2 linked regions of the Homo sapiens genome follow. The protein of the gene in region 2 interacts with the protein of the main gene of each other region in a pairwise test. Each region holds a gene or a part of one and is shown on either strand. Other genes may lie near its edges.

Evidence for each region.
Region 1: the proteins of LYN (region 2) and SKAP2 interact in a protein complementation assay, tested with the Homo sapiens proteins (one study listed by BioGRID).

Annotation. Positions count from the first base shown.
Region 1 is NC_000007.14:26,735,518-26,739,338, forward strand, and holds part of SKAP2 (src kinase-associated phosphoprotein 2), read right to left. Parts: intron 3,362-3,821; coding exon 3,278-3,361; intron 1-3,277. UniProt on the Homo sapiens protein: May be involved in B-cell and macrophage adhesion processes. In B-cells, may act by coupling the B-cell receptor (BCR) to integrin activation. May play a role in src signaling pathway.
Region 2 is NC_000008.11:55,994,714-55,998,534, forward strand, and holds part of LYN (tyrosine-protein kinase Lyn), read left to right. Parts: intron 1-3,632; coding exon 3,633-3,786; intron 3,787-3,821. UniProt on the Homo sapiens protein: Non-receptor tyrosine-protein kinase that transmits signals from cell surface receptors and plays an important role in the regulation of innate and adaptive immune responses, hematopoiesis, responses to growth factors and cytokines, integrin signaling, but also responses to DNA damage and genotoxic agents.

The sequences.
Region 1 (3,821 bases), on a different chromosome or scaffold from region 2:
GTCAATATGTTTTTTGGCACACGCAATATGGTAGAAAATGTGAACTATGTATCTGTCAAACAGTAACAAAGCACAGTTTAACCTAGTAAGTGGTGTCAACTCCTTCTGTGCCTCTATAATCCATTTATCTAAATCCTACTTAGTTGGAGGATTATAGTTCTCATATAGCTAGATATGAGTTCTTCCCATTAGGTAAATGGTTCACACATACAGTAAACAAGGCTATAAAAAATCATATCTAATTTCACAAAAGAAAAAAATTATTTGACATATTTTCCTGGTAAGAAAAAGATATAAAGGAAGGAAATCGGGATCATGCCAAACAAGTAATTAAAAACTGTCTAAAGACAGATCTTTTTTTGGAGTCCCTTAAAAGAGAGGAACTGGCTAAAAATTTCGAATGAAACCGCCAATAGAAAAAAGAACCACAAGAAACAAATCTAAAATTTCACTGGAAACAGGAGGCTGCAAAGTAAAAGGGAAAAATTTAAGGAAACACAAGCCACATCTTCAGACATCAACATGAAAAAGGAATGCTAAAATGGTAATTTTTTTAAAGTGGAAGTGTCAGAGGCTTTTAAACCAGAGCAACTCCGTCTTGAATAGGGGCTGAGTAAAATAAGGCTTTGACCTATGGGGGCTGCATTCCCAGGAGGTTAGGCATTCTTAGTCACATGATGAGATAGGAGGTTGGCACAAGGTACAGATCACAAAGACCTTGCTGATAAAAGGATGCAGGAAAGCAACTGGCCAAAACCCACCAAAATCAAGATGGTGATGAAAATGACCTTTGGTTTTCCTCACTGCTCATTATATGCTAATTATAACGCATTAGCATGCTAAAAGACACTCCTACCAGTGCCATGATAGTTTACAAATGCCATGGCAACATCAGGAAGTTACCCTATATGGCTTAAAAAGGGGGAGAAACCCTCAGTTCTGAGAATTGCCAACCCCAGTTCAGGAAAACTCATGAATAATCCACTGCCTGTTTAGCATATAATCAAGAAGTAACAATAAGTGTAAGCAGCTGAGCAGCCTATGCTCTGCTTTGCCTATGGAGTAGTGATTCTTTTGTTTCTTTACTTTCTTAATAAACTTGCTTTCACTTCCCTCTACGGATTGGCCTCAAATTCTTTCTTGCATGAGATCCAAGAACCCTCTCCTGGGGTCTGGATCAAGACCCCCTTCCAGTAACAGAAATGACAGAAAGGGCTAAATGGATCACAAAGTAGTTAAAATGCAAATTACAAACAATGTTACTACCATTAGGTCTCATCAAATAAGAATAAAAATGAACTCAGGAATTCAAGATTGCAGTAAGCTATGATGGCACCACTGCACTCCAGCTTGGGTGACAGAGTGAGGCCCCCGCATCTCTAAAAAGAAAAAAAAAAAAAGGAATGTAACTAATATCTAAATAACTCTAACTAAAATGTTTTCATTGAATATATTAGTGTTTGAAGTAAATATTAACACGCTTTGGGTTTTGGGGAAACTCTTGCTAATCTTTGACCTAACCATTGTTATATGCCAGTCAGGACTAGAAATGGAGGAAACACTGACATTAGTATTCATTGATTCTTAAAGAAATTAGAAATGAGAAGCCTAATTGAATCAAAGTCACAAGGATCTGAAACCTCCCTCCCCTGGTCTGGTGAAAAAGAGGATATTTTGTGGAAGGTAGTATCTCGATCTAAATTCACAATATCATACAAAACTATATTTCTATGATCTGTGATAATCGTAACTGAACTTGGACTCTAAATTTTCTGACCTACTTCACTACTGACCCTTAGCAGAAGAAAGATGCTTGTTTATAGCTGTTTACAGTTTACACTTCACTGATGCCATTACTACATCTGAACATACTGTAAATTAGTGATGGAATGCAAACTAGCTACTAAATTAATTAATTTGTTAATCTCATTAGCCAAAAGGTAAGAACAACTTCCAGCATTATGTAAGTATTTCAGACTTATCTGAAATATGACAATCTTACCTGTATGTTTTTAGAATGGGGGAAAAAACTCTAAAAACTATAAATAATGTCAAATAAAACATAAATTTCCAAACAACACTGATAACAATTCCATAGGAAAGCTTACATTCAGTGATACTTTTGCCTTTTTCTTCTTAAAGTGTCCTTTCTGGAAATGAACATTATCTATTTTGATACAACCTTTACTTTATAATATTCAACTCCTAGCCTGTTTTCCCCAGAATAAAACAAAACTCAGAAAGCTTACAATCTTTAAATTTCATTATTTGGTGGCTTTATTTGTTCAAATAACAATCTTAAAATTATGTGAACTACAACTGAGAGATTTATTAATTAACAATGAAGTTATAAAATGTATCCTATTATTTCTAAATTAATGTAGTGACAATAGTGGTTGAGAACATGGACTCTAACCATATTCTCTAGGTTAAAATCCCAAATTTGAGCTGGGTACAGCGGTGTGCACCTGTAATCCCAGCTACCTGGGAGACTGAGACAGGAAGATCACTTGAGCCCAGGAGTTTGAGGCTGCAGGGTGTGATGACTACACCTGTGAACAGTCACAGCTCTCCAGCCTAGGCACCGAGACAAGACCCTGTTTCTAAAAACAAAGGAAAAACAAATTCCTAGATCTGCCATTTTCCAACTCTGTGACCTTGAACAAGTCACTTAACCTCTCTGTTCTCAGTTTTCCTAAAAGTCAAATTAATGGTGCTAATAATAGTACTTACAGAGTTGTTGTGAGCTAAACAAGTTAACATAGCTAACGTACTTAGACAAAGTGCTTAGAACGGTGCCCAGTATATAGTAAATTCTATGTACACGTTTGCTGTTATTCCTTAAATCTGTAAAGGGAGCTCAGAAAGGTGCTGTTCGTATTTAATTTTATCTAATTTTATTTTAAAATATTTAAGAAAAATAATCTATTTTCTGCCATTGAAACTCTCACAACCCTATGTTCTTAACTTTTCCAGAAATTCTACAACAGTAGGCTGGATAATAAATATTCCCTAAGGTGAAAGGCCACACAGATTAAAGTTATTTTACTCTCTTTTCTAATTCAATACAACACAATTGTTTTAGCTCTGAGGGTATTCTGGTATTTGGAGCATTTGTCAAATAATGAAATGAATCATAAATTAGTCAGATTATAATTGTTATAATTCTCAGTTATTATTAGTTTGTCTTCAGTTTACTCTGTACTCAAAAGAGGGGGAAGGGATGGCCAAAAATTCTTTTGCAATAGTAGTTGATATAATTGAACACCAACATTACCTTTATCACTTCCATAATAATAGAATACCGTTTTACTGAGAGCACACCACCGTTTCTGCCATTCAAATCCCAGAAAGCTGTGATCTGCAATAAAGAGGGGAAAATGTAAGGCCATTTCCTTACTGTAAAAGAAAAAGTTAATTAATATGATTTCTAAGATTCCTCTGAGCTCTAACATTGTGTGACTAATTTGTATCTTCTTTTCCAAGAGACAAAAAACCAAACAACAACAAACCAACACAGCTAAAGGGAATAAAGTAAAGTAGCTATGGGGCTGCCATACTTATGGGATCAACAGCATGGCTAACAAAGTTTTCTGACAGGGACAGTCAAAAAGGTATCTGACTATACAGTCTTGAGATAATTGATCCATCTGGGTCTCATTTTCTCATCTGTTATAAAAAGAAGGGGAGGAGCTAACCTAGATTATTTCTGTTATCTCTTTCAGTTTTAAAATTCAGCTAAGAAAGCTAAGAAAAGCAAAATGAAATATAAATAGAAAGGCCTAAAGGGACTACAAGAGAGATAAGCAGAATGGTAATGA
Region 2 (3,821 bases):
CTTTGGGTTCTTGGCCCAGTTTATATATAATTATTGGAATGTTAGGTAGATAAGTGTCTAAGAGCTAAGAATTTTTAAAGGCTGCACTACCATGGAGTGGAGCCGGGAGGCTGGGACAGAGTCAGCTATGACCGCTCAATTGCTGCTGTCTCATCTGGGCTCCTGTAACCAACTCTGGTCTGTTTGAGCCAGGCATCGTGGTTCTATCGCCAAAAGCCTACTGTGTTATAATCGTACACTCCTTTCTTTCACACATGCTCAGCCTGATCTTCGCTCTCCACTTTTCCCAGTTTTACTGGCTTTTTCTAACAAGTCTTGTTGAACTTGGGTTACCAGCAGACAAAAGGAAACAGAGGCAGGGCTCCTCTCTCCCAGCCGCCACCAAAATTGCCACCCCGTGTCATCTGTTTCAGTAGTGCCCACTCTAGAAGGAGCTATCCTGAACTTCCTGACGCCCTCACCATGCCACTGCCTGCTGTTTCTGGGCAGCAGAGGCTTCCTAGAGAAAGTCAGACTCAGGAGCTCTGCCTTCACCTGGTTATCACCACTGCCCACCTTCTGTTGACTTCCCATCAAGGCTGTTTGAATCTTTTCCAGGGTCAGGTAAAAGCTGTGCATCTCCCCAGTGCTCAGGGTTTGTGACAGTTGGGAGAAAGGCAGGGGACACGAAGTCACTGCTCTCCAAACCTGCCCTGTCCTTTTCCTACTGTCCGTCTGGTTTCTGCTCCACTCAGCCTCTGTCCCACTTCTCAAGTCCCTCATGAAATGAAGCCTCCTGCTGTGCTTAGTGCTGTGCTGTGCTCAGTGCTGGGATGGGTTCATGTTCCTGCAGAAATTGTGGACAGGTAGTCAGGTGAGGAGCAGGGAGCACTGGGGATGCATGCACACCTGGCAGGAGAGGGTATGCCAGGCATGGCTTCCGGGAGAAGTAAAATCTCAGCTGAGACAGGCAAACTGCATAGGTCGGGTGAAAGGGGCAGGGAGGGAATGAGCGTTCCACACAGAGGCAGGGGGTGTAGAAGCACAAAGGAGGGGGTCGTGGTGAGGAGGTGGAGGGCTGAGCCGGGGCCGGGTCATACGGGGCCTTGGCAGCAGTGCAAAGGAGCTTGGACCACATTCTTTGTTTCCACTCGGAAGTGAAATACTGGACTGAATAGTCTTTGAGACTGATGTAGGCCACACTGATTATTTTACTTGAGATTTTTGTGACCATGAGAATATCATCTGCCAAATCCCTGTAGTAGTGGGCTAACAAGATAGTATTCTGGTCATGTGAAAACCCCAGCCCATTTCCCAAAGGACTTACTTTGTCTCTGATAAGAGGTTTGGTGACAAGTTTGAAGGCTCCAATGTATACAAGTGAGAATAGAAAAGATATTTTCAGCCCTAGAGGTGTTTATCAACTGGCTAACATGACACCACTGAGAGCATTAAACAGCATAAAAATAATGACAAAGCTGTGATCAGCAGCTGCAGATGGTTTTTGTACACATTGACCATCTAGGGTGAGTAAAGGGGAGTTCAGGGAAGGCCCACGGGGCAGAAGGTGAGGCCAGGGATTGGCCTAGAGGGGAAGCAAAGGCAGACCCAATACCAAGGAGCTAATCTTTTGCTAAGCAACGTGGTCTGGAACTGGCGGCCTGAAGTGCTTGATTACCAGGGATACTGTTGCAGATGACTGGGGAAAGTCAGATCCTCCAAGCCGAGCCACCTGCAATTCAAGGTAGAATCTGGCAGAATACATTCATTCCTGTGTGAAAAATTCGAATCAGAGTTTTCTCTAACTGCTTACCAGATAAACTACTACTTGGCTTTCTTTACTTCTTGCCCTTTTTCTTGCTTCTTACTTCCCTCCTTTCCTCCTCTCTCCTTGTTTCCTTCCTTCCTTCATTTCCTTGTTCCTTCCTTCTTTCCTTGCTTGCTTTCTTCCATCCTTCCTTCCCTCCTTCCTTTCCTTTCTTCCTTCCTTCTCCTTAACTTTATAATTTGGTAATGTCTTCCTTAAAAACCTGACTTTGGAACGATACTACACTTTCTATTCAGCAACGAGTAGTAGTTTTGCCTCCCTATGTTATTGTTGTGTTTAAATCCTGGATTCTTTCCTGCTGTCATACTTTGTCATGAGAGTGAATCTTGCCGGGCGTGGTGGCTCATGCCTGTAATTTCAGCACTTTGGGAGGCTGAGGTGAGTGGATCACCTGAGGCCAGGAATTTGAGACCAGCCTGATGAAACCCCATCTCTACTAAAAATACAAAAACTAGCATGGTGAAACCCCGTCTGTACTAAAAATACAAAAATTCGCCAGGCATGGTGGTGCGTGCCTGTAATCCCAGCTACTCGGGAGGCTGAGGAAGGAGAATCACTTGAACCTAGGAGGCGGGAGGTTGCAGTGAGCTGAGATCATGCTACTGCACTCCAGCCTGGGGGAGACAGTGAGACTGTCTCAAAAAAAAAAAAAAAAGAGTGAATCTTTGTGATTGTCCTGGAGGGAATGTGCAGAGAGAACTTGGAGAGCCAGTTCCATGGGCTGTTGATTAACCTGACAGAAACGACATCCTGTTCTTGATACCTTAATAATTTATTTGTATTAGCATGTCACTTTCTCCAACTCTATTTTCATAGTTGGTTCAGGCTGCCATAATAAAATTCCATAGACTGGGTGGCTTAAACGAGAGACATTTATTTCCCACAGTTTAGGGGCAAGGAAAGCCCTGGCAGGTTTCATGTCTGATGAGGGGCCATTTCCTGGTTCATAGATGGCACCATATAGCTGTGTCCTCACGTGGTGGAAGGGGCAAGGCAGCTCTCTGGGGTCTCTTTTACAAGGGCACTAATCCCATTCGTGAGGGCTCCACCGTCCTGATCTAATCACCTGCCAAGGCCCTGCCTCCTAATACTATTGCCTCGGGGTTCAGGATTGCAACATTTGAACTTTGGGGTAGGGGGCGGGGAATGGGACACAAACATTCAGACCATAGCATCTGTTTTCTGATTTGAGAAACTGGCATAATAACATCTATGTATCTACATGGATGAATTTAGCAGGGTCTTGAAAAGATTCTTCACACATTAGAAAATGTTAAGACATGGCCAGGCGCGGTGGCTCACGCCTGTAATCCCAGCACTTTGGGAGGCCAAGGCGGGCGGATCACGAGGTCAGGAGATCGAGACCATCCTGGCTAACATGGTGAAACCCCGTCTCTACTAAAAATACAAAAAATTAGCCGGGCATGGTGGTGGGTGCCTGTAGTCCCAGCTACTCGGGAGGCTGAGGCAGGAGAATGGTGTGAACCCAGGAGGTGGAGCTTGCAGTGAGCCAAGATAGCGCCACTGCACTCCGGCCTGGGTGAAAGAGCGAGACTCCGTCTCAAGAAAAAAAAAGAAAATGTTAAGACATGTTCCTTTTTTTTTTTTTAAGATGACCATTGTTGGAGATTTGGCAGAGGGTGGTCAGTTATTTTAGAAAGGGCTCAAATGGTGATTGCCATTACCCACTGTCTTTAAAAGCTGAATGATCAAAATAGTATACATGAAAAGATTTCAGGAATTCATAAGTTTTCCGGTTTTCCTTGATGGCACTTTCCAGTCACCTACCCTACATATGAAAATGGGAGCCTATTTCTGTTTTCAGATTGCAGAGGGAATGGCATACATCGAGCGGAAGAACTACATTCACCGGGACCTGCGAGCAGCTAATGTTCTGGTCTCCGAGTCACTCATGTGCAAAATTGCAGATTTTGGCCTTGCTAGAGTAATTGAAGATAATGAGTACACAGCAAGGGAAGGTATGTTGCACTAATGATCTTTAGATGTTTTATTA